Linked DNA regions of Homo sapiens: region 2 is linked to region 1. The links come from fine-mapping of genetic effects on gene expression. A gene starts in region 1. The other region holds a variant in brackets. All regions are shown on one strand. Distances are between the middles of the regions.

Region 1 (16,063 bases):
TTTAGTTTGCTTATCATTATAAACATTATCAAAAAAACTGCATCTAACTTCAGTGTTTATTACAGGTTTCTTAGGCAAAAACTCTATAAATTTAAAATAATACTGCAATACCCTTTAGAAAAGCCCCTATTAGTTCACAAGCCAGTAAGTGATAGGGAACCGAATTCCTTTTTTAAACTCTTCCTCTCTTCTGGTCACAAAGGTTTCTCCATATAACCATATTTGCTGTCATTTTCTAGAAAGAGTAACTTCTCTCTTCCTCCAAAGACCTCAATCAACTCCTACTGCTTTTATACAGAAGTGGATGGCTGCAGAAATTCTGTCAGATAATGGCAGCTACCATGATGGTGTATCTTATTATGCAACAGATGTAAAGCACTTTATATGTACTGCCTTATTTAATCCCTACAGCAATCCTGCTAATACTGTCCCCATTGTACAGATGGGGACAATGCGAATCCAAGAGAATAACTTCTCCAAGAACACATGGCTAAATCAAAGTAAAGGGATTGAAAATATAGATTAAAATATGGATGGGGCCAGGTGCAGTGGGTCATGCCTGTAATTCCCAGCACTTTGGGAGGGTAAGGTGGGAGGACTGCTTGAGCTCAGAAGTTCAAGACCAGCCTGGACAACATAGTGAGATGTCATCTCTAGCAAAAATGAAAAAAATCAGCCAGCAAGATGACTCACTCCTGTGGTCCCAGCTACTCAGGAGGCTGAGACGGAAGGACTGCTTAAGCCCAGGAGGTGAGGCTGTGGTGAGTCATGATTGCGCCATTGCACTCCAGCCTGGGTGACAGAGTGAGACTCTGTCTAAAAAACAAACAAACAAAAAAAGGATGAAATCCTGAAATTCAGCCTTCTAACTAACAACATAAAAACTGGAAAGAAATTACTAAAATCCCTTCTTGGAACATACCCATTCACATCTAGAGTGGACTAGCACTGAAAGGCAATATAACCTTCTAAACCTACTTTCACAGGCATGCATGGTAAAAACTGTCAAAATCTCACCGGAGGGACTCTTGGAGGGTAAAGCTAGGTACTGATGAAAAATTCTTGGCCAGGCGTGGCAGCTCATGCCTGTAATCCCAGCATTTTGGGAGGCCGAGGCAGGTGGATCACCTGAGGTCGGGAGTTCGAGACCATCCTGGCCAACATGGTGAAACCCTGTCTCTACTAAAAATACAAAAATTAGCTGGGCGTGGTGGCAGGCACCTGTAATCCCAGCTACTCGGGAGGCTGAGGCAGGAGAATTGCTTGAACTCGGGAGGCAGAGGTTGCAGTGAACCGAGATCATGCCATTGCACTCCAGCCTGGGCGACAAGAGTGAAACTCCATCTCAAAAAAAAAAAAGAAAAAAGAAAAATTCTCATAATTACTTGGAGGAAGACTACCTGGCTTACCTCAGATTTATTGTAATAAGAGTTCTCTATATTCGGCATTCCAAGTTTCCCATATTTTATTTGCATATGGTTCACAAAGGACATGTGTATTTGAGTGGATGCTTTCCAGCTAAGATCATTAATGGCAATGTCCCAAATACATTAAACTGGCAATCTAGGACATTTGAAGGCTAAAGTAGGGGCAGTAATGTAGAGCTGAAAAAAACAGAAGGTAGTACCGTATGTGGGGGGGAAAAAAGCAACTCCACCATAATTTCCATTATATCTTCTCACATTGTTGAATAATACCCTTCCTTATTAAGACACAATTTTGATAAAGAAATTTCGATCTCTTTAATGAGATCCTTTTTAGTTTATACTTTCAGTTGAATCTCTCTAAACTAAATAATGTTATACCGAAGCTTAATGCTTCCTATATGAAGATTTTCAAGGGATAGAAACTGAATAATTCTTTACTTAATAACTGTGAAAGCATATACCTGTATGTCATACAGCAAAAACATGCAAACTTTTGAATTACCTCCAATAAAAAAATAGCAAAATGCATTTCCTATTCAAATACACTTAAAAGCAACTTCTTTAGTTGCTTTTATAAGAATACACATAAAATAAGAAAACATATAAAAGTTTTTGTGGTCAGCCAACAGTTCCTTTTAATGTCTAGTTGCAAATTTTTGATCTATAAACTTTCTTTTTAAAATGCTTTTCAGCCGGGTGCAGTGGCTCACACCTGTAATCCCAACACTTTGGGACGTCAAGGCAGGCAGATCATGAGGTCAGGGTATCGAGACTACCCCTGGCCAACATGCTAAAACCCCAACTCTACTAAAAATACAAAAATTAGCTAGGTGTGGTGGCACGTGCCTGTAGTCCCAGCCACTCAGGAGGCTGAGGCAAGAGAATTGCTTGAACCTGGGAGATGGAGGTTGCAGTGAACCAAGATCGCACCACTGCACTCCAGCCTGGGCTACAGAGCGAGACTCCATCTCAAAAAAGAGAATAATAATAATAAAATGAAATGGTTTTCAAGATCAACTTCTACAAGACTATAGGTAACAAAATTAAATACCCACATCCCACCTGGACAGTAATACAGAAACACTTAAATATACACAATTTTTAATAAAGAAAAACACAAATCAAAAGCCCAGAAATTATCAAGAAATATTCGGCTCCGCCGTCAGGATTTCAGGTCCAGCGAGGCTGAGTTAATGGCCAGAGTAGCAGAGTCCCCAATTTTAGTTCTACTTCCTCATTTACCGCGCTGCATAAACAGGTCTGTGGAAATTTAACCTCTCTGAGCTGCAGCTGCCTGATTTGTAAAACTGTGATTCCATTTTTGATATATTACAACAGAGTACTGCATCAGATAATTCCTCAAGCTATTTCTAGCTTAAAGATTTAAGTTTTATGTCTCCCTACTACTTAACGCCTTTATAACACTTCATTCTGTTTCTGCTACTTGATATTAATATATACTCTTAATTTTCAAATTTAAAAATATCTGAGGGCCAGGCGCGGTAGTTCACGCCTGTAATCCCAGCACTTTGGGAAGCAGAGGCAGGTCGATCACTTGAGGTCAGGAGTTCAAGACCAGCCTGGCCAACAGGGAGAAACCCTATCTCTATTAAAAAACAGAAAAATTAGCTGGGCATGGTGGTGTGCACCTGTAGTCCCAGCTACTTGGGAGGCTGAGACATGAGAACCGCTTGATCCTGGGAGGCAGAGGCCACAGTGAGAGGAGGTCACATCACTGCACCTCCAGCCTGGGTGACACAGTGAGACTGTCTCAAAAAAAAAAAAAAAAAATCAGGCTGAATGTGGTGGCTCACGCCTGTAATCCCAGCACTTTGGGAGGCCAAGGTGGGTGGATCACTGGAGGTTAGGAGTTTGAGACCAGTCAGGCCAACATGGTGAAACCCTGTCTCTATTAAAAATACAAAAATTAGCCTGATGTGGTGGCATGTGCCTGTAGTCCCAGCTACTTTGGGGGATGAGACAGGAGAATCGCTTGAACCCAGGAGGCAGAGGTTGCAGTGAGCCAAGATCGCGCCACTGTACTCCAGCCTGGGTGACAGAGCGAGACTCCGTCTCAAAAAATAAAATAAAATATAAATAAACAGATCTGACAACTAGAAGTATCTGTGAAAAAAGAAAAAAAATCAAGTAGCACATTTCCCCCCATTTAATATTAATAAGTGCTTGAGACTTTCATTTTTATCCTAAGACCTTGTAAAGATAAAAGACGACCTTTTGGCTTTTAAGTATTCTATACGCATGGGACACAAATTCAAACACCTTATAGGTAACCAGTGTATGAACTGGCCACTGTGAGATAACATGAAGAGAAAAGGCATCGGGTGATCTAGAAAGTGTCCATATTCCCTGAATGCATTTAAACTAAAAAAATTTATTTAAAAGTGCTGGCCAGTTTGAAACACATTCTATACAACCACTAAAAAACGCTTTCAGCCACTAAACTTACAAGTCCATGTTTCCAACTGTGATATTGTTTCATTTTTTCCATCCAATTTGTGACTTTATTTCATTTCGGTATATATCTCCCATTAGATAAAAATAACCTTCCTGTTTGCAGAAATCGTTGCCACATGGATAAAATCTACTTTTTACTTTTAGAAAAACATATTATCTCCTTATTATCCCTTTGGGGCAATTAACCAAGCATGTGAGGGCACCGAGAAATTAGTTTTGGTCTTACTGAAACCAAACAGCAAAGCTTGAATCTATTTCTGACTTTCTAAACTTGTTTCTCAACCTGTTTGTCACGATCCCTTTTGAAAAACAAAGATCTCAGATTATCCATCTCGGGACACTGACACTACATCCAAAAGATATATCTCTTGTGGCAGGAGATATACGCAGTGTATACTGTGTTTTTACATCAACAAATAAGTTTTTTTTTTAAAAAAAGCTTTATATTCTGTCATTTATATTATGAACACATTAATTATTCAAATACAAAATTATAATCACAATTTTGAAAACACACAAACCACTGAGCAATTACGATATGGTCCCCTGGAGCATATAGCTACCCTCTTCTGTAAAAAACACGTTACAGAAAACATGTTTACTGACGTAAAGTGAGCCCTGGGGCAAAGTAAACTTTTAAAGGGATCAACATATGAAATGTGTTTTAGCTGCTCAAATATCATGATTACTATCCTTAAAATAATCACACTAAGTGACCATTTCTTAAAACAGAAACTGTGAAAAACTGAAACTAAATTGCTGAAAATAACAAAACTCATTTGGATGAAAAAGAATAAAACATTGCTGACTCTGGGGTTGTGATCTGACAAGTTGGAAAACATTACCAGGACTTCCTGCTTCCATTTCTGACGTGGTTTCTAGGCTTGTTAGGTCTTTATGAAACAGTCGTCTTACAGTTCTGCAGCCTCTTGTGTCTTGCCACCTATAACCATCTTCATTTTCTTGAAAGGAGTCTTTTCTTTGTCGGTTTATAACAGGAATTCTAGGTCCAGGTTTGAATTCTCTCCAGTTGTCTGAATTACCAGTATGTTCATCAGACAGCCATCTCTTACTCTGATCTTTGTGGCTGTCATTCATCCAAGCGGGTTGACTGTAGATTGGGTTTTTAAATGCATATGGATTGCTGGAAACAGCACATGGTCCTTTTCTGGGGGTATTCCCATAGTTCCCTGGTGTTATCTTCTTTTTTTGAAGGCCCTTTTCCATTTTACTGCCATGGCCTTTAGCATGGTCATCTATTATTAAATAATCTTGTTGGGGGTGACCCCTTCTGAAGTCATCATCATCCATAGTCCCCCGGTCTTTAGTGCGCTTCACGAAATAAGGTTTTGCTGTATCTCCCATGGTCTTTGACTTCAATTTTCTTACTTTGCACCTGAAAGAAGGTATTTTGGGGAAATATCAAACTATATAACAAGATATCATACAAGTATACAAAATAACAATTTATCGTACAGATGCCCCAAAGCCTGTAAGAAAGAAACTCCCTATTTTTTTAAAATAAAAATTCTATCACATTCTTAATAATCAGTGCTTTACCCTAGAGGTTGGGAGGCTTGGTCCTCTAATATTCTTCATGAAAATTAATACTTACTATTTAGCATGAAGATTAAATGTGTGAATAAGAGAAGCTCTATAGGTTCCAGAACTGTAGCATAGTAGAATATTACTCATATCAAGTATGGTCGGCTTTTCCCTCTGTAACAAGGCGTTTCTCTTCAAAGAAAACCTCATCCCAAGCCAATATTATTACTAAACTACCGAAACAGTCTTTTGTTTTTTAAGTTGGCAATTACTTGTAAGTGTTATACACCGAAACTTTACGTGAAAGGAGTACTACATTTCTCAACTCCAATTTTCCGTCCCTTCACCACCCCTATTCTGGACAGACCGGCTTTGAGCGCTTAGGTTACGGAGGGGCTGGGCTTCCGACCAAGGTGCAGCTGTAATTAAAGAGGCTGGGTTTCCGATCAAGGGACAACTCCATCTAACCTCCTCAATCCCCGTTCTCCAACCCCAAACAAGTTTGGTTTTGTCAGGAACAGCAATTCCCTGAGGAATGACACTCCTCTTCAATCCCCATCTGACCGCTCCACCACCGATCTGCCTTAGTTTCCACCCTTTTGAGCCCGACGTGGAGAAAGAGGAGGCGTCCCTGCACTCCTGGCCAAGAAGCCACCGTGGGGACCAGGAAGCAGGAAGTGACCTGCTGTCTCCATGGGGTTCCAGGGTTCCCCCGGCCGGCCAGGGGGCCAGAGCCGAATGTCTTGACCCAAATCCCGTCTTCTGCGCCCGCAGTCTGACAAAAAGTGAAAACACGGACTCGAACCCGAGGGCTCAGCCTCTGCCGGCCTGGGGGTTCCTCGGTCACCCAAACTGGTGCGAGGAGGCCGGCGGGGGATGGAACCAACGTACCTCCGGGGCCAGGCCGGACAGCTACTCTGGAGTCCAGGAAACCAACTGGAGAATCAGCCCGGAGGCGAGTCTGGCAGGGACGTTGGGAGAAGGCGCCCAAGAGCACTCACCACCTTCGCCGCGGTCCCCAGCCTCTTCCTGTCCCGGCCGGGCTCCCTCTCCGTGTTTTCCTTCGGCCCCACTTCCGGCGCTCAGCGCTGTCTCATTGTGCGCGATTGGGAGCCGACTGTGCCCCCGCCCTAGCGCTCCGCCGCGCACACCGGAAACGAGCGACGCGCCCCGCCCCGCGGTGCCCCGCCCACGCTCCGACCCCGCCTCCCGCGCCTTTGCCAGCCTGGCCTCTCCTGTCCGGCGCCCCAGCGCACTCGCTCCAGGTGTCGGGCGCCGGGTCTGGCCACCGGGCGCAACCGTCGGAGCGGGCTAATTACTGGCTCGCCGGATAGCCGGTTCGCCGGCGCTTGGGGGCCAGGCCCGAACTTCTTACCAGAGCGGCGCCCGCCCCTTTTCTCTCCCGGCTTCGACGCTCCTCTGGTTCCCCTCTCTGCTCGGGAGGCTAAGTGCTCGGGAGAGGCGCGGGAGCCAAGACTTATGCACCCGGAGAGGGACGCGGAGCCAGCGGTCGGGCAAAGCCGCATTCCCCGCGCTTGGGGCCTCGGCTTTGCCCCTGGGTGCTCCCCGGTTACTTCCAGGGGGAGTAAAGGCTCCGAGGCCTCGTAGCGCTCTTGGTGTTTTTCTGATAATTCGTAGTGATTAATGTTTTCGTGAATTCTTAATTGCCGACCTTGTAGAAATGCCAGCATTTAAACATCCACTGCTCACCCAGATCTCAAAGTGGTCAAGGAAAATGCTCTGCTTTTTTCTTAGGTTGTGTAAGGATTACTTTTACTTGGAAAAAAAAAAAATCAGTTCATTTCGAAGAATATGTGTAATGGCAAGGGATGACCAGAGAGCGTTACATTCGAATTTTTGAGTTGAAGAGTGCACACCTCGAACTCGGGGTTGCTTTTTCTTTCTTTACTGTATGACCTTCCTTGCTGTTTACAGTGTTCTAAATGCTTTGAAAAACATCAAGCAACTAGTGAAATTAGGGAGCGTTGGGAAAATCGACAGTTTTCATTTCTCTGCTTTTTTAAAGCATGTAAATTGAAAGCTGTCAGGTCCTGTGGAGCAATGGTCTTAAAATAATAACACACAAAGTTCTGGCTATGCCAATAACTGTTTTGAAGGCTTTACAAATATTAACTCCTTTGTTTTATATTTTTGTAGAGACAGGGGTCTCCTATGTTGCCCAGGCTGCTCTCCAATTCCTGACCTCAAGCCATCCGCCCAACTTGGCCTCCCAAAGTGTTGGGATTACAGGGGTGGTCCACCATACCCAGCCTTAACTTCTTTAATCCTCACAGCTTCATGAAGACTATATCATTATCCCACTTTTAAAGATGAGGACATTTAGCACTTGCAGTGAAGTAAATGGCACTGCTGCAATCCAGACCCTGAATATGAGGCTGTTATTAACCATGTGGCTATACTAAAAGTGATATAAAACACATTCCTACAACTTTTATATAATTCCTTACTTAGATATTTTGATTGTGAAAATACGTGAGGATCAAACTGATAGTCTCTTCAACAGGCAGACAGTGGCCTTGAAAATATAGTCCAAAAGGGAGTGTGGAGATGCATGATTACATTAATTCTGAGACAGCAGCGTCACCACGCCCCACCCAAACCAGTAATTCCTGTGCAAAAGAACTGGTTTAGAAATCTGCCTCCACCTAGAGTTCTAGAGTAGCAGCAGAGGATACATACTTTTAAGGATTTTTTTTTTTTTTTTGAGATGGAGTGCCACTCTGTTGCCCAGGCTGGAGTGCAGTGGCATGATCTCCGCTGGCTGCAACCTTTGCCTCCACCTAGAGTTCTAGAGCAGCAGCAGAGGATACATCTTTCTAAGGATTTAATTTTTTTTTTTTGAGACAGAGTCTTACTGTGTTGCCCAGGCTGGAGTGTAGTGGTGCGATCTTGGCTTACTGCATCCTCTGCCTCCCAGGTTCAAGTGATTCTCCTGCCCCAGCCTCCCAAGTAGCTGGGATTGCAGACAGGCACCACTATGCCTGGTTAAGTTTTGTATTTTTAGTAGAGACGGGGTTTCACCATGTTGGCCAGGCTGGTCTGGAACTCCTGACCTCAAGTGATCCACCGGCCTTGGCCTCCCAAAGTGCTAGGATTACAGGCGTAAGCCACCAGGCCTGGCCCGATTTAAAATACTTTTGCCAGGCACTTTGGCTCCTGCTTGTAGTCCCAGCAACCCTGGAGACTGAGGTAGGAGGATACCTTAAGCCCAGGAGTTGGAGGCTGCAGTGAGCTATGATGGTGCCACCACACTCCAGCCTAGGCAACAGGGCAATACCCTGTCTCTCTCAAAAATAAATTTAAAAAATAAAACGTTTTGAATTTGCGTTTTCTTCAACGTCTTTCCCAAAGCCCAACTTCTTTTATTCTAATGGTTGCTTTTAAGATTCATTTTGAGGACAAATCAGGCTCTCTCAAATAAGATGCAGTACTAATCAAAATATATTGACAGCAGAATATACCTTTTTCTGTCCATATTATGCTGTAATGGATATTTAAATTGGTCCTAGGAATTCTTACAATCTGGTTGGAAATTTTGATTTGAGTTTTCTTTGGATGTCACTGGAAGGATTAATGAGTTTCTCAGAATCTTTATGGTGATTGCTTCACGGTCTTGACATATTTCCAACAACCTGGAGCAGAAATGTGAGGGCAAAGGCTGCCATATACTGTTAAGCAATGTTCAGAGGACCTTAATACTGCTCCATATGTTACAATATATTTTCTATCTTGAGCTTAACATTGTAATACAACTTGAAATCTTGTGATTCTATCTCGAAATTAACATTTAATACATAATATGTCTTGACATTCTTGTAATTCTATCTAGAAATTAACATTGTAGTACATGTAATACATCTTGGCATTTTTGTAATTCTATCTTGAAATTCACATTGTAATACATGTAATACATCTTGAAGTTTACATTGTAACACATGTAATACATCTTGACATTCTTGTAATTCTATCTTGAAATTAACATTGTAATACATCTTGACAAGTCAACTTTGAACAAACCCAGTGCTTTTTTTCTATACAGCCATGGAGTCAGAAATACAGGAATTATATTCATAGCTTTATCAGCCAAATTCTTTCCCCAGTGTTTTATTTTGTTTGGTTTGGTTTGGTTTTCGGTTTTTAGAGCTCTAATGCTTAAATGCCAGCGGTTTTTATCCACATTGTTAGCAAGTTATGTTGGTTTGTCCTTCAAATCTGTCTGGAGTCCAGTAACTTATCACTACTTTCTCTGCTTCCAGCCAAATGCTCACCACTATCACTTGCTTCCACCTTGTCCTCCAATCTACTCTTGACACAATAGCCAGAAAATGCATATTAAAAATCAGACTGAGTTACCCCTCAAAACCTTTCACTGGCTCCCAATTTCTCTGGGAGTAAAAACCAAAATCCTTCAATGACTCAGGGCCTTTCCCTTTACCTCCCGATCTCAGCCCTTATTCCTCTTACCCCAGTGGTATAATATAAAATATATTTGGCCTTTGTCCCCAGTTTCTGTCATAGAGCTCTTAAAATCCTTGAAATTTCCTGAGTGATAGAAGTGTCTTTCCGTGTTTATAGTGAGCCCCTAAACTCCTGAGTTTATGCTAATGAGATGATTTAGGATGGGGGCCCTACATAGCCTCAGCATGGGGCTAATCACCAGAAAGACCAAGTGATTGGAGGATTAGAGGGTTAGAACTTTGAGCTTCACCAACTGACCTCTGTGAAGGGGAGGAGGGGGCCGGAGATCAAGCTCTCTAAGTAGTCTTGAACAAAAAGATTTGATGAGATTCCCTATAGTTGAACACATGTAGGTGCTGAACGTTGGCTCACCTAGACAGGGCATGGAAGCTCTGTGCCCTTGCCCTATGTACCTCTTCATCTGGCTGTTCATCTGTATACCTTATAATATCATTTATAATAAACCAGTAAGCGTGTTTCCCTGAGTTCTCTGGGCCACTGGGGACACGGGAACCTCAGAAACCAGTCAGTCAGAAGTATGGGTGGCTTTGACTTGTGACTGGTATCTGAAGTGGGGGCAAACTCGTAGGGCTGAGCCCTCACCTGTGGGATCTGACACTATTGCCAGGTAGATAGAATTGAAATGGATTATAGGACACCAAGTTGGTATAATTGCTTCTGTAAAGGCAGAAGGAACTTTATACCCTCAGAAGCTTTGATGGTTTGAATCTATAAAACAAACTGACAATAGACAGATTAACAGGAGAAAAAACATATCGATTTATTAACTTGCAAGCTAGCGAGACCCAAACAAAGTATGAAACTCAAAGAAGGGCCAAATGGCTGAAGCTTAAATGGGACCCTGAGCTACAGAAAGAAACCAGGGCCTCTGATGGGGAGGTGGTGACCACAGTCATTGAAAGGTGAGGGTAGAGTAAGTGTGTGTTGAGCAAAAGTTTCTTCTTATACAGATAAAGTCTTTCAGACTAGAAAAATGGTTTTAAAAAAATAGGTGAAAAGTGTGTCCAGCCAGACGTGGTGGCTCACACCTGTAATCCCAATACTTTGGGAGGCTGAGGCCTGAGGATCACTTGAGCCTAGGAATTTGAGACCAGTCTGGGCAACATGACAAAACCCCATCTCTACGATAAATACAAAAGATTAACCTGGCATGGTGGCACACACCTGTAGTCCCAGCTACTCAGCAGACTGAGGTGGGAGGATCACCTGAACCCAGGGAGGTCGAGGCTGCAGTGAGCTGTGATTGCACTACTGTACTCCAGCCTGGGCAACAGAGTGAGACTCTGTCTAGAAAAAAAAAAAAAGCCTGTCCAGGTACATTGTCCTGGGCTCTCCTGAGATACGAGTTCATCTTCTCTAGTTAGTGTAGATTCCAAGGAGGGGGTCTAAGACAATTGCATTTCTTCTGGAGAAACTTCCCTTAATCAGATAAAGGAAGTTTAGAGAAAGTCCCTCCCTTCCTGTAGGTGGGTGAGGGTGGTGGGGTGAGGCAAGAGAAAATCAGACAGTCCTTGGTTCTGAGATTTATTTCTGAGCCCTTTCAATTTCCTTGTTAAAGGCACACAGCATGCCAAAGTGCCACATGTTGGGGCATCATTTTCTAAGCTCCAACACTTGGTATGTGGGGAAATCACCAATCTCCACTTATCTGGTCACAGAAATGTGCTGTATTGAATGTGAGAATAGAGTGGAAACTATTTTTTTCATTACATCCCCTCCCATACACACACATTGCACCCCGACTATGCTAGCCTTGCAATTCTTCCATCACAAGCCTCAGGGCTTTGCGCTGGGTGTTCCCTCAGCCTAAAACAGTTTCCCTAAGACATCTATATTGGTCACTTCCTCTTTCCCTTCATGTCTTTGCTGAAAGGTCACATTCTTAATGCAGCCTATTCTGACCACCAATTTATTTATGTATTTACTTATTTATTATTTATTTTATTTATTTATTTATTTTTGAGATGGAGTCTTGCTCTGTTGCCCAGGCTGGAGTGCAGTGGCGCGATCTCAGCTCACTGCAACCTTCACCTCCCAGGTTCAAGCGATTCTCGTGCCTCAGCCTCCTGAGTAGCTGGGATTACAGGTGCCCATCACTACACCCAGCTAAGTTTTTTGAATTTTTAGTAGAGATGGGGTTTCACCATGTTGGCCAGGCTGGTCTTGTACTCCCAACCTCAGGTGATCCACCCACCTCTGCCTCCCAAAGTTCTGGGATTACAAGCGTGAGCCACCACACCCAGCCCTGACCACCCATTTAAATTTTAATCTAACATTTTACCCGGTGTATTTTTTTGTCTTGTAAAAAGAATTTAAAAATCTAAGCTGTTGAAACTTTAAATTTTTTGAACCTTAAAGGAATGTGCTTATGGAGCCTGAGTCACTTGACAGGCAGCTATAACCTAGGCAGCTGTAGCCTTTGTTTCTCTCATTATAGATTAACCTTCTTCTTTACCTATATTGTTTTGTAAAATGTTGTAAATGACTAATGGGCTCCAGAGAAGACCCCTTTTCTCTTTACTGTTGATCTTCATTATAGATTACCTTTCCTCTTAACTCTCTCACACTAAGGCTTATGACTAGCACATTGTCTAAGAGGGAATGTTAAATATACTCTTAAGTTGAGAAGAAAATGAAAACAAGCTGTATGGAAATGAAAACAAGCCATAACTAATTAAATTGTTGTTATAACCCATAAATCAGCCTTCTATGCAAAATTTTGCCGGCACAGTGGCTTATAGGCTGGGCGTGGTTGTTTACCCTATAATCCCAGCACTTTGGGAGGTCAAGGTGGGAGGATTTCTTGAGCCCAGGAATTTGAGACCAGCCTTGGTAACGTAGTGATGTTATATATAAAGTTTCGGTGCTGCAAAAGAAATAGCACTTGAATATAAAATTTTCTTTTTGATTCTCAGGAAGGCAAGGTACTTCTATAGAAGGGTGTGCCCTTACAGATGGAGCAATGGTGAGCACACACTTGGACAAGGGAGGGGAAGGGGTTCTTATCCCTGATGCATGTGGCCACTGCTACTGTGTCCTTCCCTTATTGGCTAGGGTTAGGCGACAGAGGCTAAACTAATTCCGATTGGCTAATTTGAAGAGAGTGATGGAGTGAGTGGTTTGGCAGGAAAAATGGTTATGACAGAGCAGGTGATTGGAATGAGTCAGGGTGGAGTAGGTAATCGAAAAAGGTTGCTTTATGAGGAAGTTAAGTTTAAAAGTAGAAGGCAAAGAATTGAACATACTGACATATTGATTCTTTGAAAAGAAATTTAGGACTCATATCTAACAACCCCTCCTCTTCTATTTCCTTACAGCTTTCTTTTCAAACTTTTTAAACATGTCTTGGCTTAGTTGTTTTGCTTGATTTTGCAAAAGAAGAAGCTTCTCTGGATAAGGTGAGGATAGTTAAGGGAGGTTTTAGTGAGTGCCATTTTTATGAGCCTCTGCATCAACCTACAGATGCATGGTATGACACAGCAGCCAGCAAGAATAAGTACACCTATTATGACTGTGAGGGAAGTAGGAATTGTGGCTACTATTGCTTTCCATTTACCGAACCACTTTTCTAGCCATCCTGTAAAAGGGTCATTTACCCCTGAGTTGCGGGCTAACTTGTTGGATAGAGCAGTCAGACCTTGCGATGCTTTTGTTATACTTCCATTAGGGGCAGTGTTGTTTGGGATGAAGGTGCAACATTGAGTTTTAATCATGATGCAAACTCCTAATTCTAGTGTAGTTAATAAATCGCTATTGGTTGTAGTAGATGTAGTTTATCCAATCTACATTTTTATTAATTGTCACCTACCAAAATATTGATGCAAATCCTACAGCTATTTGATTTTAGGCTTTAAATTGATCTGGTATTCCCCATGGGACTCTAATTGTGTCTAAATAGATGTGAGAGTCAAAAGACCCATAAGGGGCTTCTCTCGCTTTATGATGTCTTATTTTTCCTTCCTCTGGTTGATGAAATGCCAGGGTGAAAGGGATAGCCAATTGAACTAAAGCACAAATGCCACTTCAGTTATTTGTCAGAGTGTCCAGTAAAGGTCCACCACAATACCACCACATATCCACTTGGGGATGAACAAGGGCTGACTGATTGATAAGCTCTTGAAAATTCTTAAGCTCACTGCATCCCTTCAGGTCTCCAAGGAACGCTGTTTCCTCCCTGTTGTGAGAGACATGAAGTGAACTTAGTGTTGGGAGACGGAAGCTGGATAGCCCTCGGGGGCTGACCCACAGGGTGCCAGACTTCGGGATATAGCAGAGAGGGAGCTTGGCACAACTTATTACTCTAGGCTGTAGAATCCTGGAAAAGAGCTGCCATGCAGCCTATGCCTGGTCAAGTGGAGGGTCACCCTAGTGGAAAGGGGACAGTCTGGGACTCTGGCCTGCTGTGCGTACAAGCATAACAATTGCTTTTGTTTAATGTGCGGACGGAATATTTGATCTATTCCACCAGGCATTTGCATCTTGGTATCCTTGGTATCTTTGGTATCTTAATTGCCAAAGTTTATTTTAAGTCTTTAACTTTTATGATCCTCTAGTAAAATGAATGTATGGTTTAAGGAAATTACAAAAACCGGTTGGGGCAGTCCATCCTTGCTCTTCAGTGGTCCACAGAACGTAGGACCAACTACGGCATAAAAGCTCTACATCGGGGGCAAGACTCCTGGTTGACACTGGAGTTTTATCGACATCTCCCCGGATTAAATGCCCAGTCTGAGGCCCAGTCTGAGGAGAGTCAGGAAGGACAGAGGTACTTTTTTGAAGTAGAGAGCTGTCTTTGACTTGGCAAGTCCCCACAGGGTATAACAAAGCAAGCATCAAATGCAATAGTTTGAGGCGAAATTGACTTTGTTATGTTATAACTAGACGGTCAGCAATAGAGCGAAGAAAGAAGCAAGAGTAATTGAATAGATGAAAGAAAGTTAAATTTTTCTTAGCTTTAGTTTGGTAGGGTTTTCCCCTGGGACCATGGCCCACGACTCTGGGTGGGGGGGCGGGGGTGCGGGGGGGGTGGCCCTTTCTTGACTCACGTGTGATGAGTCCATCCTCTTTTCGTTGTATGAACAGCAGTCCCGGTGGTTAGCAGCCCAAGGTAGGGTCCTTCCCAGGCTGGCTCGAGTTTTCTTTCTTTCCACCCTTTGATGAGAATGTGATCCTCAGGCTGGTGCTGGTTTACTGGAAATTCTAGGGGTGGTACCTGTGCTAAAAGACTTTTAGTTTTGGGGGAAAGGAAAGAGGAAGATAAACCAAGTATATAAGGTCTAAGAAATTGATCTTTTGTTTTAAATGCAGGGACATCAGCATTGGACATTATAGTCCTTGGTGCCTTCTTATTAAGAAATTTCCTTTAGCACCTATTTTTATTAGTTTTTAGACCAAAGAAAGCCAAACACCATTTTATATTTGACAATGCTTCCTGTATGACTTTTATACCAGATAAGCTAAATTTCACCTTTATATTAGTGTGCTATTAATGTTAAAATCAATTTTAATAAAACCGTGTAGACATATTTATCCAATTTTAACATCTAACCATAAGATAAGATTTTCATAGACTCTTTTTAACCTTTTATAATTTTTGTTAAAGAGCAGGTTAGTGCTTTAAGAAAAATCCATTGTGCTTTTATTTTAATGTCCAGTTCACAGAAAAACTGGATGATACCTTTTTAACTTTAGCCAGTGTGTTTACACACAGAATTTCCTTTATAATTAATGTTTTCAAACTTGCTTAAACCTTCAAAACAAAGTTTTTTTTTCACCTTTTAATGTAGGTAAAAATCCACATTCTTATGCCTCTTTATAATTCTTTTACTAAAAGTATATTTTACTTTCCTTATACACCTTGCACATAAACTGTTTCGTCAATAGTTTTACATTCAGGACGCCTAATTACTGTTACATTATACAACATTTCTTGCATAAATTCCCTTTTATAACACATTTTTTTTCACGCTTTACAATATCTTATTTTTCCTTCCTCTGGTTGATGAAATGCCAGACAATTCTTTGACATGCCTCAACTTTCTGACTTGTTGCAAATGTCCCTTTCTTTAAACAAACAATTTATTTTAGGACAAGAATTTACCATATAACATTCTTTT
Region 2 (16,063 bases), 130 kb before region 1:
AGTCAATTGCATGAAAAAAATGAGGACTTGCTCTAGACTAAAAGAGTCTTAAGAGACTTAACAATCAAATGCAATCTTTAGATCTTGCTTGGATACTGATTCAAACAAACCAATTAGAAGAAGATAATTTTATAATAAGGTGACTTTGAATATAGATACAAAGGTGGTACTAAGGAATTATTATCTTTTAGTAAATAATGCATTGTAGCTATGAAAGAAAATGTCCATATTTTTCTGAGATGCAAACAAAAGTAACAACTGAGACATGGGGTCTAAGATTTGCTTTAAAGTACTTCAGCAGACACAACAAACACAACAAAAGGAACAGATAAAACAGATGTGGTAAAATCTTAATAACTGTTGAATCTAGATTATGGATATATGCAAATTCATTGTAGAATCCTATTCATTTTTATGAGTGTTTAAACATTTTCATAAAAACAAGAAAAGATAGCAGGAGTGGATGGTTTTATACCTGAGTTCTAGCTAGACTTCAATATTTCTAATATTGTTTAAATATCTGTGATCTTAAAAAAGATGAAAAACTCCCCAATTCATTTTATAAAGCTAGCATAACTTTTAATAAACTTTTTTGTTTTGTTTTGTTTAAGAGACAGGGTCTCACTTTGTTGCCTAGATCGAAGTACAGTGGCATGATCATAGCTCATTGTACCTTCAATCTTCCGGGCTCAAGAAATTCTCCTGCCTCAGCCTCTCAAGTAGCTAGGACTACAGGTGCACACCACCACCCCCAACTAATTTTTGTAACTTTTTTTTCTTTTTTTTTTTTGAGATGGAGTCTTGCTCTGTTACCAGGCTGGAGTGCAGTGGCACGATCTCTGCTCACTGCAACCTCCACCTCCCAGGTTCAAGCAATCCTCCTGTCTCAGCCCCCCGAGTAGCTGGGACTACAGGCACACGCCACCATGCCCGGCTAATTTTTTTTTTGTATTTTAATAGAGATGGGGTTTCACCACATTGGCCAGGCTGGTCTCGATCTCCTGACCTTGTGATCCACCCGCCTTGGCCTCCCAAAGTGCTGGGATTACAGGCGTGAGCCACCATGCCCAGCCATAACATTATTTTTTTAGAGGCAGGGTCTCACCACATTGCTCAGGCTGTTCTTGAACTCCTGGTCTCAAGTGATCCTCTTGCCTTTGCCTCCTCAATACCTGGGATTACAGGAGTGAAGCACTGTGCTTGGCTCTAAAACCTTTTTTTTTTTTTGAAATATAATATGCATGGAGAAAAATTAATAGTTGTGTGTAGCTTGAATAACTTTTGCATACTGAACACATCTGTGCAAAAAGATTAAAAACTAGAACACTGTGTGCACCCCAGATACCCACCCCATGCTCATTTTAGACAGTATCTTCTGCTGAAGATAGTCACGTGCTGAAGCCAGCACAATTTTTTTTTTTTTTTTTTTTAAGCTGGAGTCTCACTCTATCGCCAAGGCTGGAGTGCAATGTTATGATCTGGGCTCACTGCAACCTCTGCCTCCAGAGTTCAAGCGATTCTCCTGCCTCAGCTTTCTGAGTAGCTGGGATTACAAGCACACGCCACCACACCCAGCTAATTTTTGTATTTTTAGTAGAGATGGGGGTTTCCCCATGTTGGTCAGGCTGGTCTCGAACTCCTGACCTCAAGTGATCTGCCTGCCTTGGCCTCCCAAAGTGCAGGGATTACAGGTATGAGCCACAGCATAAACTTTAATACCAAAATCTGGTTTTAAAAAATAGTGCAAAAAGTGGAGACTACAGAATAATTTCATTTATATGGAGACGACTTTTAAAAATAGCATATTAGGAAACAGGATCCGGAAATGTATTTTAATATCTACACAATCATACACACATATATTGTTAACAATTTGCTTGCCATTATTTCTTGCATTCCCTCTGGGTTCTTACTAAAATACATACTTTATTAGTAGTTTTTTTTAAGCAAGGGATTATGGATAGTAAACATTTTTAGGCCCATGTATTTTTTAACATTTTTATTTTACCCCCTACTCCTCAGAGAGAGTTTGGCTGCTTATAGAATTACAGACAGCTATTTTCCTTCAGCATTGTAAGTATATGACACTATTGTCCTCTGACCTCTATTGTTAATGAGCATTCTATTGTCAATTTGTCATTTCTTTGTATGTAATCCATCTCTCTTTCGTAGATTATATTTTCCTTTACTGCTTAGTGGTCCATAGTTTTGCTACAGTATTTCTGGGTATAGATTTATTTTCAATATCTTGCTAATCAGTCTGAGATTTTTCAGTTCAAGGTCTCATGTGTTTCTTGAGATTTTTCTGTCATTTTATTTTCACATATCACTTAATTTCCATTCTCCTATTTTTTTTCTGCTAATTCCATCGTATACATTTCTGAACTTCTCATTCTACCGTCCAATACTCTTATTTTTCTGTCTTACAGTGCTATGATCTCTAAGCTTTTCAATGCTGTCTTCCAACTTGTTAGCCCTCTCTCTTCAGATATATCCAGGCTACCACTGGGATAATTATCAAGGGTTATTATTATAATTTTCAATGACTATATCTTTCATTTCCAAGATTTCCAATTTGTTCTTTTACAAATCTTTCTGTTCTTATTTCATGGATGCTGTTTCCTTCTTTGTCACTGGACAGTTAATAGATTATATTTAAGTTCTCATATTGATCTCTATATGCTCAGATGTTAATTTGTTTGTTGAATGTACCAAATACTTTATGATGATGAACTTCCTTGTGTGCTTAAAATTCCTTAAAAAGCTATGCTTGCTTGAGTGTTCTTCAGTTACACCTTTTCTTTTCATATGACCTATATTTGCTTTAGCCCTGGTCCAAATGGGTTGCACCGTCCAAACCACTTCTCACGTTAGCAGATTAAATCGGACCTTTTGCTCTGTATTAACGGCTTAATTTTACAATATACCTTCATGTGTGTTGTACACACTCACTTCAGATGTTCTATTGGGTACTTGGCTTCTTTACTTTTTGTGTATTAAATCAATGCTCTCAAAAGCAAAAATCTACGTCCAAAATATTTTAATACACTACATATTCCATTTAAGAGAATAACTTCCTTCATTTTGATAATCAATTTGAGGATAAATGACCAAAGACTTGCGAACTATAGGGGGGAAAATAACGTCAGGCATGTCCTGGCTCTCTACAAATCTCTTCTCAGTGTTGTATTTTATGTCTCCGAATGAAATTGCAGTAGTGCGCCTCCACTTCGCAAGCCCCTTAAAATATCTCCATTCCAGATCCCTTAGATTCATGAATTGTTTTCCTGAAAAGAATCATATTTTCAAAGAATCACATGGTGTTGTTACTCAGCCTTTCATTACTCAGAGATGCTTCATGGACAGGGTAAACCTTTGATGAACTCGAGTCCCCTCTTTCTGGCAGAAAGCCATTTCTAAAGCTTTATTTTTAATTTTTATTTATTTATTTATTTTGAGACGGAGTTTTGCTCTTGTTGCCCAGGCTGGAGTGCAATGGTGCGATATCGGCTCATCACAACCTCCGCCTCCCGGGTTCAAATGATTCTCCTGCCTCAGCCTCCTGAGTAGCTGGGATGACAGGCACCCGCCACCACACCCGGTTACTTTTTTTGTATTTTTAGTAGAGACGGGGTTTCACCATGTTGGCCAGGCTAGTCTCAAACTCCTGACCTCAGGTGATCCACCCGCCTCAGACTCCCAAAATACTGGGATTACAGAAGTGATCCACTGTACCCGGCCTAAAGCTTTATAAACTTAAGGGAGACCCTGTGATGTCAATTTCATGTAAAGCCTGCCCCTAAACAGCAATTGAGTGGGTCTGGCTAACTGGGCTTGAGTGGACCCTGCAGAGCCCCGGCAGGTGGACGGAGTATTTCATTCTGTGCTTGGATCCTAACAGAATGTGCAAATGGAGAGCTCTGCAGAGCACCGAAAGCAGCAGGGAGGAGAAAAGGATCCAAAAACAGGGAGGAAGATGGGTTAGAAGTGCACAGATTGTTAGTGTCATTTCTTCCAAGATGCTAATGTAAGCCCTAAGTATAAAAGGGCAGTGGCTGAGCTAGAATCTGGCCATTCTCCATACTCATTCAGAAACCACAAGCTTGAGGTGTCATTAGCAGTTACAATTCCTTCAAGTAGCCAATGAGCCAAGGAGAAAGAATCAAGCAAAGACACAGCACATGTTCTCCCCACCAGCAGCGATTCCCCTCTCCCTTCTCTTCCACCCTTTTCATGGCTAAATAACGCTGAAAACAACAACAAATCAAGGCTAAAGGCATGGGTTGGAGTGTAAAACCAGGAGCCAACGGGCCACGGGAACAAGTATAAGGAGAATTATGGTCACAGCAGACAAGCAGGATGACTGGTCTATTTCTGGTGGGTGACCTTACTGTCCCACATGTGGTGACATTTGAGCATGTCACCTGTAGTCCAAAGACTGAGCAGGCACCACTCCACTCCAATCAGTCCTCCATCCCTGTACTGGGAGGGCCTGGGCCTGCCTGGTGGGAAGTCTTTATATAGACTTTGTACATGTCTGAAGTAGAAGACAGGTGCCAGAGACTCTTCGTTGGGCTCATACCTCCCCAAGTAGAACAGATACTGCCATGGTGTTCAGCAGTCCATTCATAAGGCCAGTTGCCAAGTTTCAGGGAGTTTGACAAGATCTTTGGAGGCCTGGCATAGCAAGAAGTGGTGGCAAAAGGAAGGAAGGGGATCTTTAACAAGAGAAGGTTTAGAGCTGATGATTTTGATGACTAAAGAGCCTCATGTCCCAAACTCCTGACCTCAGGTGACCCACCTACCTCGGCCTCCCAAAATGACCAGCCTGGCCAACAGGGAGAAACCTGGTCCTACCAAAAATACAAAAAATTAGCTGGGCTTGGTGGCGGGCACCTGTCATCACAGCTACTCCGGAGGCTGATGCAGGAGAATCACTTGAACCTGGGAGGCGGAGGTTGCAGTGAGCCGAGATCGTGCTGCTGCACTCCAGCCTGGGTGACAGAGCAAGACTCTGTCAAAAATAAATAATAAAAAAAGAAGCTTCACGTCATGATCTCTGACAGACACTTTAGGTTGGCTTACTCCACACGCATTGCAATCCTCTTCTGCCTTCCTCTGCTATAGAGGGGGGAGCTAAGAACTCTTATTCACCAGCCTTCCCTACAGGAAGGGGTGATGATTGGACACAATTCTGGCCAAGAAGATGTAGAAAGAAATCACTTAAGGAGAGGTGTTCTGGAAAATCGTTGCTTCCGTATTAAAAGAGGACAGAAGTGTCAATGTGGCTCTTCATCCTATCCCACCTTTTCCTGACTGGAATGTGGCCACAGCCTCCGAGGGTGAAGATGTCTTTTGGACATGAAAACAAAAGCTACACACAAAAAAATGGCAGAGCCCAGGTCCTTGGAGACATTTGAAAGCATCGCTCCACAGAGAGTGGAATCACGGTCACCAGAGACAGAGTAGGGAGTGGGAGGGGAGGATGGAGAGAGATAAGTCAATGGGTTCAGAGTTATAATTAGAAGCCCTGCATAGTGGCATGCACCTGTAGTCCCAGCTACTGGGGAGGCTGAAGGAGAAAGATTCCTTGAGCTCAGGAGTTTGAGGCCAACCTGGGCAACATAGCAAGATACCATCTCAAAAAAATGTAAAATGGGCCAGGACCAGTGGCTCACGCCTGTAATCCCAGCACTTTGGGAGGCCAAGGCAGGCAGATCACTTGAGCTCAGAAGTTCAAGACCAGCCTGGGCAATATGATGAAACCCCATCTCTACAAAAAATACAAAAATTAGCCAGTTGTGGTGGCATGCACCTGAGGTCCCAGCTACTTGAGAGGCTGAGATAGGAGGATTGCTTGAGCCCAGAAGGTTGAGGCTGCAGTGAGCTGAGATTGTGCCACTGCACTCCAACCTGGGTGACAGTGTCTCAAAAAAAAAAAATTAAAATTGAAGTAAATAAATAATTGAGAACAAAGTTACAGTTAGATAAGAGGAATAAATTCTGGTGTTCTATTGCACAGTAAGGTGAGGATAGTTAACAATAAGATATGGTATCTTACAAAATAGCTAGAAGGAAGGCTTTTCAAAGTCATCACCACAAAGAAATGGTAAGTGCATGAGGTCAGGATAAATACACAGATTCGATCACTATATAACACTATTGAAACATATATTGTACTCCATATATATGTACAATGACAATGTGTTCATTAAATAAATAGAGACATAAAAAGCACTGGGAGGCTGAGGCAGGCGGATCACGAGGTCAGGAGATTGAGACTATCCTGGCTAATACGGTAAAACCCCGTCTCTACTAAAAATACAAAAAAAAAAAAAAAAAATTAGCTGGGCTTGGTGGTGGGCACCTGTAGTCCCAGCTACATGGGAGAGGCTGAGGCAGGAGAATTGCTTGAACCTGGGAGGCAGAGGTAGCAGTGAGCCAAGATTGTGCCACTGCACTCCAGCCTGGGCAACAGAGCGAGACTCCGTCTCAAAAAAAAAAAAAAAAAAAAGCATTGTTCCGGCCCTTGTCTGCGTACCCCTAGACTTCTAATTATGTAAGAAAAATAACCACTATTTGGTTTTCTGTTATTTTTGATTCCTAAGCTATATGATTCTATGGGATTTAGCCTGAACAAGAGGAGCTCATACGATAGAAGAGCAAAACGGCAACACCCACTCTCTTTTCCTCCCCCGGTGCTTGGTGCCAGTAGGAATATGTTCTTTAGTATACTTTGGAATACCAGGATCCTAAAGTTCTTCTGGACTGAGTAGGAGAGTAGAAGATGAATTGTTGCAATACTAATTACCCCTAAGGGATTACTGGATACCCTTCACTTAGATTCCTGCCTGACTCCATGCACTTTCTTTTTCTTTCTTTCTTTCCTTTCTTTCTTTCCTTCCTTCCTTCCTTCCTTCTTTCTTTCCTTCTTTCTTTCGTTTCTTTCTTTCTCTCTCTCTCTCTCCTTCCTTCCTTCCTTCCTTCCTTCCTTCCTTCCTCTCTTTCTCTCTTTCTTTCTTTCTTTTTTGAGACGGAGTCTCACTCTGTTGCCCAGGCTGGAGTGTAGTGGCGCGATCTTGGCTCACCACAACCTCTGCCTCCTGGGTTCAAGCGATTCTCCTGCCTCAGCCTCCCAAGTAGCTGGGATTACAGGTGCCCGCCGCAACGCCCAGCTAATTTTTTTGTATTTTTAGTAGAGACGGGGTTTCACCATGTTGTCCAGACAGGGTTTCACCATGTTGTCCAGGCTGGTCTTGAACTCCTGACCTCAGGTGATCCACCCGCCTTGGCCTGCCAAAGTGCTGGGATTATAGGCGTGAGCCACCATGCCCAGCCAGCATATTTCTTGAATAGACATGACATGTACCAGAAATTTACCTCTGGGATCTCAGGAAATGAAGATATGGAGGCAGAGAAGAGACTCCAACACAGTTTGTGAGACCACATCAGAGACCTCCAGAAGTTAGGTAACCAGCAGGTAATTCATGCATTAGGAAGAAAGAAAAACTTGGCCCGTATACATGTGAAAGTCATAAATGTTCAAGACCTTATCAAACATCCAAAACCCTTCTTCAGTAGGTTTTTGATTAGTTCTTCTTACTGAGTCTCAACACTTTTCATGATTTTTCCTCTCTGGTCCCAGGCTTTACTTGTGTACTTTGCGAATTATCTAGGCCAGTCCTATCATTGCTTTAATTGCACTGCTACTTAGGCAACGTAGGACTCTATGAAAGGATTTCGAAGCCTGCATTTGGCTCTGTTAAGATGTCAATGTAGGGAGTTACAGCAAAA[G/A]CTCTTCCAACTCTTTGGACCAAATATACTCACAGTAATCAATCTATTCCTTTAAATTTGCTCCTTCTGCCTCTCCCATTACTTTTTTTTTTCTTCTTTGAGACAGAGTTTTGCTCTGTTCCCCAGGCTGGAGTGCAGTGGCACAATCTTGACTCACTGCAACCTCTGCCTCCTGGGTTCAAGTTATCCTCTCACCTCAGCCTCCCGAGTAGCTGGGACTACCGGTGCATGCTACCACACCTGGCTAATTTTTAAAATTTTTTTGTAGAGTCGGGGTTTTGCCATATTGCCCCGTCCCACTACTTTTAATATAAAAATGGTGGTGTTAAAATATTTGCTGTGAAAATGGTCTTATCTTGAATCAAGAAACTGCTTCAGAGGGTTATCACAAATTGATGTAATCTATTAAAAAATGACAAAATATTACCTCTCTCAAATTATATAAGATGGAGACTTAAAGTGTAAGACACTCCCTTCTCATTAAAATTCAGCATCATAAGTTTCATGGTTTTTTGTTTGTTTGTTTGTTTGTTTGTTTTTTGAGACAGAGTTTTGTCCTCGTGGCCCAGGCTTGAGCACAATGGTGCGATCTCTGCTCACTGCAATCTCCACCTCCTGGGTTCAGGCAATTCTCCTGCCTCAGCCTCCCAAGTAGCTGGGATTATAGGCACCCACCACCACGCCCAGCTAATTTTTTGTATTTTTAGTAGAGACCATGTTTCACCATGTTGGCCAGGCTGGTCCCGAACTCCTGACCTCAGGTGATCTGCCCGCCTCGGTCTCCCAAAGTGCTGGGATTACAGGCATGAGCCACCATGCCTGGCCCAACAATATATCTTTTTAAGAGTGAATCTGAGACTTGATCCTGGAATTCTGGGTTCTCTGTTCTGCATTTTATTTTTATTTTTACTTATTCATTTTTTAGAGACAGGGTCTTGCTCTGTTGCCAAGGCTGAAATGCAGTGGTGTGATCATAGTTCACTGCCACCTCAAACACATGTGCTCAAGTGATCCTCCCACCTAAACCTCTCGGGTAGCCGAGATTACAGGCACATGCCACCAAGCTCAGCTAATTTTTATTTATTTATTTATTTATTTATTTATTTTTGGAGATGGGGTCTTTCTATGTTTTCCAGGCTTGTTCATTTTATTGACACTGTATAAAGCAAACATATTAATAGCAGCCATGAACCTCAGAACTACAAAATTGCTGTAGGTCAGTATTGGACCATTTCTGCTCTAGTAAATTTGCAATGAGATTTCCATTCCTTTTCTCCCACATGGCCTCATCTGTTTAAATTACCTGGGTCAACTAAGAAGGATCTACAAAGTTTATCTTCAGAAATGAACTTTTCTGGGGTGGCACTGGAAATGCCTAAGCTGCATAAGATTTTGGGGCTTGGAACCTTCTGTACGGTAACTTGGGCCAAGGCATTCGAGTGATCGGTGAGAATTTCATAAGGAAAAGTGTGCTTGGGAGGGGAGATCCCACACTGTGACAGCCTCTGCTGGGACCTGGAGAGCCTCTCCATGGGAGAGAGTGAGCTTGCCAGTAAGCTGCGGTAGAGGAGCTCAATCATGGATGCTTGCTTCTCTTTTTTAACCACTGTGCACCTGATAACAGGTTGGAGATCTCCTCTCACATCAGCGCCCCTGGTGAATGACATGACATTCAGGTTTCTAGCAAGTACTTCCTGTGCTTCGTTAAGTGAAATACCATGCATTTTTAGAAGATTTGATTTCTTGCTCTCCTTATTAAAATTCTCAATACATGCATATAATTCTGGAAGCTGTGGACAAAAAAAAAAGTGGTAAGTCACGAGACTGACAAAAATGTAATATTCTGGCAGACCTACAAACCCTAGAAAAAACCATAGGACAATAAATAACCATAAAGACAAAAGCATTTTTATCTTTGGAAGATATCTTTGCCTAACTAAAGCAAGTCAATTGTGGCAATGTGGAATAGAGAACAGAGAGGTCAAATCTCCGATTCACTCCCTTAAAGATGTATTATTTAGACACGTCTTATAAATGCTTGTTATAAAATTAGGCAGTTAGAATTGAACTAAGAAGTCTTGAAGATCTTTCCAACTCTGAAATTCTATGAGTGACCACGGAGAGAAATAGCTGTGGGAGACTGTGGCCTTTGCTTGTTTTGAACAATGCTATTATGTCTTTGAAGGAAGAAAGCGAGCCAGATCACTTAGATATCAGAGCTTCATCCTGTTGTCCAAAGAGCCCATAATGTTCAGGAATCCAGTGCTGAGGAGGCGACAATAGTCATTGCTCACTGGGATATGTGACCAGAGCAAATGGTGACATACATTGAGTATCTGGGAATAGTTATTGGCAGAAAAAAACAGTAACAGATCCCTGAGAGGACCTGTCCCCATCTAAAATCCTATACTTCCTACAAATCCTATCCTTTCTAAGAGGTTTCTTAGGCCATTACACTGGAAGGCCAAAGAGGCCATAGTCTCAGGTTAGGGCTGAAATTTAGGTCCTTTAGCCCAATGCAGAGTTTTCCTTCAATCCTAGTCAATTTTATTGCAAGGGCAACAAATAGAAAGTGAGCTAACGCGTGGGAAAGTAGAAGGGACTTTGGACGTCTTCCAGAATGTCAAGAGTCTGCGGCTACAGAGGCTACACAAGTGGTCCAGACCCTGGAACCAGTATGAGCTCTGCTACAAGGTGGTGCAGGAATATATGGATGCATTCTCAGTTACGCCAACTTCAAGTAAGAGGCGACAAGGGCCCGTGGACCAGGAGGATTGCTTTTAATATTTTATAATAGTCTGTTTTGTTAGTTTACCCCAAATTGTGTATCTGTCTTGTAACTGTTTTAGAAATTGGTACATAGGTGGAGATTTTATAAGTAAATGTGTTAGCACTGATAGTCTTTTTTTCCAGTGTTTTTTTGGGGAGTTAAATAGTGTGATGTTTGGACCGATATCATGAAATCTTTAGCCTGGAAATTGGGCTGGATTGTTCTCTGGTTAATACATCTTTTCCTAAAGAAAAAAAAAAAAAAGAAAGTGTGCTAACATTGGTGAATGGCTCTTTATAACGAATTATACAACCACACTATCACGAAAACAGCTCAGCACTTCTGCCCACCTGCCCTGGGAAGAGCTACACTTCTCTGTGACTAAGAATGTTAAGTCATTAAAGTGACATTTTGGAGTTTCCCATGGCTCCCAAGTGTGTCACTGTGCGTTCAATAGTTTGAATGTTTATGATTCTTGAATGTAAAGCTCCCTGTGTACACCTCGTTGTACAATGTTAAGTACATACTGAACATTGAGGAAGGGTGGCTTCTCTATTGTCCTCAGCTGGACTGGTGTCTCCAGTGAGGAACATCGTGCTGGGATTTTATTCTCTAATTCCTAAAAAAAGCAATATGAGAAAAGACAAAAATCAAAGATTAAAAATCAGATAGAATACAAAGGGGGAGGTGAGACTTCTTAAATCTTAATAAATTTGTGAGTGGGACATTTTGAAAATTTTATACCTGTATTAGTCCATTCTTGAATTGCTCTAAAGAAATATCTGAAACTGGGTAATTTATAAGAAAATAGGTTTAATTGGCTCATGGTTCTGCACACAGTCCAGGAAGCATGGTTGGGGAGGCCTCAGGAAACTTACAATTATTGGGGGAAGGCAAAGGAGAAGCAGGGCACGTCTTACATGGCCAGGACAGGAGAAAGAAAGAGCAAAGGGGGAAGTGCTATACACTTTTAAACAACCGGGTCTCATGAGAACTCACAATCATGAGAACAGCAAGGGGAAATCCTCCCCCATGATCCAGTCACCTCCCACCAGGCCCCACCTCCAACACTGGGGATAACAATTTGATGTGAGATTTGGGTGGGGACACAAATCCAAAGCATATCAATACAATTTAAACTTTTCATTTGCTTTTTCGTAGTTTAGGTCTGCCAAATTTGTCATGCTTCAACTGAGCATTTCACTGAAATACCCAAATTCTTCTACAACATGTGTATTTAGTTTTAATACTAGTGTAACAAATCCTATATGGATGGTTTTATTTTTTATTTTATGTATTTATTTTTTTGAGATGAAGTTTCACTCTTGTTGCCCATGCTGGAGTGCAATGGCACGATCTTGGCTCACTGCAACCTCTGCATCCCGGGTTCAAGCAATTCTCCTGCCTTAGCCTCCCAAGTAGCTGGGATTACAGGCATGTGCCACCACACCTGGCTGATTTTGTATTTTTAGTAGAGACAGGGTTTCACCGTGTTGGTCAGGCTGGTCTTGAACTCCTGACCTCAGGTGATCCACCCACCTCGGCCTCCCAAAATGCTGGGATTACAGGTGTGGGCCACCACGCCCAGCTGGATAGTTTTATTTTCTTGTCTTACATATTCTGATCAACTTTCAGTTCATCTAAAGAAAAACTCACCCACCTCCTTACACTCAAAAAGTGTTTTTTATTCAGGAGGAAAAGGCTCATATGTAATGATAATAATAAAAACAATAAATATTTTGAAAATAATTTACTTTGTGTCAGATACACTATAAGGCATTTTGCAGATGGAATTGTGTTTAATTTTTCTGCAAGACGTTAAAAATGGCCATGGAATCTCCACAATTCATCTCATTGATAAGTGGCAGTTAAGTTCTCTCCCACATTTTACTGGGCTGGCCTATGCTTGGCTTTGATCAATAGCTTGTGGCATTGTGTCAGTGACATAGTGTGAGTGCCAGAACCCAGACCTTAAGAGGCTTTGCGGCTTTCCTACACATTCTTGGGAGCCTGAGCCACCATGTAAAGAGAGATCTGGCTGCCTATCTGGAGAGACCATGCAGACTCAGCAGCCAGTATTGACCACTAGACATGTAGATAAAGCCATCTTGGTTCACCCAGCCCCAGACGAGCCTCCAGATAACTACAGCAGCATAAGCAACCTCAGCCAATCCCAGATGGAGAAGAACTACCTCCCAGCTGAGCAAGGCAACTCTAAAATTTTGACAAAGAGTAAATTATTATTGTTTCAAACCACTAAGCTTTGCATGAATTGTTATATAGCAATAAATACAGATAAACCCCATAAAACTTCACATTCTTGGCTTAATTTATTCCAGTGAAACCCTTATTGGTAGGTAAGAGAATATATGGATGGAAAATATATTTCTAGGTACAGGGTACCACTGTATCATGACTGGCAGCTGTGGTCACTGGGATGAGTGTCTGAGATGAACCAAAAACACTCACTTGGTATTTGGAATGAAGTGAAAACAATTATGTTTCTCTTCCTTCCTGAGTAAAGTAGAAAAACCCAGAATGGATACACACACACACAAAAACACACACACACACATACACAAACATGGATATATATATATATATACATGTATGTATATGCATATATACATATATATATAAAATCTCAAATACATTTTTGTCACTATTTGTCACTACTGAGATCACTATATTGATATACAGGACTAGAAAAGCAATACAGTGCAGCATGCCTGCCACAGACCTGTTTATCTCTAGGCAATTACAATGAGACTTGATTGTGCTTTCCTCCTGCAAAGGAAGGAAATTTTTTCTGCAAAGGAAAATATTTCTCTAATGTGCTTTACCTAAAACCTGTCAATGTCTTCCAGTCAATCATTGCTATTGTCTTTCAGACAGCTTCAGAGTTGTCCACCATAGGAAGGTTGCCTTCTCCCATCACCAAGGGTTAATAAATTTTCTCCTCCCTTCCCTCAGAGGAGGGAAAGATGTAATCTCTCGCCTCTCTCCCCTTTTCTCTCTCTCTCCCTGCCACCTCCCAATTTTAATCAGCAGTGCCAATATCCAACTTCAATGGCCAATCTCCAACTCTCTATACATGGAGTCAAAGCAATAGCTAAGAAATATGTCCTCATGTTATTACAATAGTATTGATGATGACAAGGAATGGAGCACAAATAAGTTTAGATTCTTGCTCATTCTCTTTGCTAAACTACCGTTGGGTGCATTTCCCTCTCACTGAAGTGTCAGGATTCCGAATGCTGAAACAGATCACTAGCCGAAAATGCTTTTAGACACTTAAAGGTTGACTTGACTAGCAAACTTTTAACCTCAGTTTTTGCTTGATCCAAGTCAATGCCTAAATCTAGACCAGCCCTTTGACCCAATCTCTCATGGAGAGTGTTCCTGGTGAAGTCATGGAAATATGGCCAATGGCCTGTTTACAGATTTGTGTGAGTAAAGTGAAGCTTTTGCAGGGGACTGTGGCACTTCTCTTCATCGTTACTCCCACAGATTCCTACAGTAAATTTTCCTTGTACTGTGAAGAGCAAGGGCGTCTCACAGAAACTCTCGGGGATGGTATCCTCTTCTCCATTTGCACTCACCCCCAACTTTTCACCCTTCCCTCCAAATCAGAAGGAAAAAAGTTCTCTCTGCTCATCTAATGTTAATTTTTTCTCTCTCCCACCCAGGGTGTATATTTTATCCTCCTCGTAATTCTTTTTCTTTTCTTTTCTTTTTTTGAGATAGAGTCTCACTCTGTCACCCAGGCTGGAGTACAGTGGCACAGTCTCAGCTCACTGCAACCTCCAGTTCCCGGGTTCAAGCCATTCTCCTGCCTCAGCCTCCCAAGCAGCTGGGACTACAGGCAAGCGCCACCACACCCGGCTAATTTTTTTATTTTTAGTAGAGACAGGGTTTTGCCATGTTGCCCAGGCTGGTCTCAAACTCCTGACCTCAAGTGATCCACCCACCTCAGCCTCCCAAAGTGCTGGGATTACAAGCGTGCACCATTGCGCCCGGCCCCTCCTCATAACTCTTGTGGAATATTTCCCCTCAGTTATCCTCCCTTCCCTTCCAACAACAACTCCTCTTGTCTTCCTTCTTGCTTCCTATCATTCTCTTATCTTCAGTCTCATGTTCCCCAATGGCTCCTTCCTTTCTTTGCAAATATGTAAAATGTTTTCCACTTGGGGTAATAATGCAACTTCTCTTGACTGTGATCCTACCACTAACCCTGGACTCTTGTCTCTTCTTTACCTCTGAACTTGCTGTATTTATATTTTCATCATGTAATCTTCAGTATAATGACATTTAGCTTCCACCTGGCTGATGAACTAAAATTGAATTCTTAAAAACAATAGTGACTTCTTAATTATCAATTCTAGTGTAGTTTTTACAGTCCTCACTTTTCTTTTTTCTTTTTTGAGACAGAGTCTGGTTCTCTCACCCAGGCTGGAGTGCAGTGGCGCAGTCTCGGCTCACTGCAACCTCCGTCTCCCGGGTTCAAGCAATTCTCCTGCCTCACCCTCCTGAGTAGCTGGGATTACAGGGATGTGCCACCATGTCTGGATAATTTTTGTATTTTTGGTAGAGTCGGGATTCTGCCATGTTGGCCAGGCTGGTCTCAAACTCCTGACCTCAGGTGATCCACCTGCCCTGGCCTCCTAAAGTGCTGGTATTACAGGTGTGAGCCACTGTGCTCGTCCAATTTATAAATTTCTTGACCAGACTTACAAAGACTATTCACAATCTGCTTCTGACACTTTTCTATCATTTAAAAATATCATATTTCGGCCGGGCGCGGTGACTGGCGCCTGTAATCCTAGCACTTTGCGGGGCTGAGGCGGGTGAATTACAAGGTCAAGAGATCAAGACCATCCTGGCCAACATGGTGAAACCCCATCTTTACTAAAAATACAAAAATTAGCTGGGCATGGTGGTGCATCCCTGTAGTCCCAGCTACTCGGGAGGCTGAGGCGGGAGAATCGCTTGAACCCGGGAGGTGGAAGTCGCAGTGAGCTGAGATCAAGCCACTGCACTCCAGCCTGGAGAAAGAGTGAGACTCTGTCTCAAAAAAAAATGATAATAATAATGACCATATTTCAATGCTACCGCAATGCCATAAATGTTCTCTGTACTTTAGCCAGCTGGGCTCATTTTTTTCTGAAAAAATCTTCTGCGCTTCTGTGCATTCTTTCTTTGAGCTTATGCTCACTCTGATTTCCCATTTAGTCAGACAGAATGTCCTTCCTTCTCTTTTATGACAATCTAAATAAAAACATAGTAGAACTGAAGCTGAAATGGAGAGAACCACAATGTTGAATAGCTATTGTGTCATATAAAAGGGAAACATAAATAACAGGAAATGAAATAAAGGCTAAAAATTATTTAAAGAGAACTCAATTATGGTGAATCGATTTTCTGACAAAGTTGCCAAAATAATTCAATGGAGGAAAATAGTCTTTTCAATAAATGGTGCTGGGACAATTAAATATCCAC

The links. PIP is the estimated chance that this variant, and not a neighbour inherited with it, causes the effect.
Region 2: its variant is fine-mapped to the expression of TUT7 in whole blood (TOPMed, PIP 0.93).

Annotation. Positions count from the first base shown.
Region 1 is chr9:86,347,933-86,363,995 of GRCh38, forward strand. TUT7 (terminal uridylyl transferase 7) reads right to left here and starts at 6,478. Exons shown (of 27, transcript NM_024617.4): 1 at 6,339-6,478; 2 at 4,748-5,298. The coding sequence starts at 5,267. RefSeq lists an enhancer at 6,327-6,536 and a silencer at 6,557-6,736.
Region 2 is chr9:86,218,447-86,234,509 of GRCh38, forward strand. C9orf153 (chromosome 9 open reading frame 153) reads right to left here. Exons shown (of 4, transcript NM_001276366.4): 2 at 11,092-11,183; 3 at 9,409-9,584; 4 at 1,819-3,287. The coding sequence starts at 11,157. The coding sequence ends at 3,242. Among named protein-coding and RNA genes, the nearest start is that of C9orf153, 33 kb to the right of the region's middle. The variant G/A (reference allele first, on the strand shown) is at 7,795.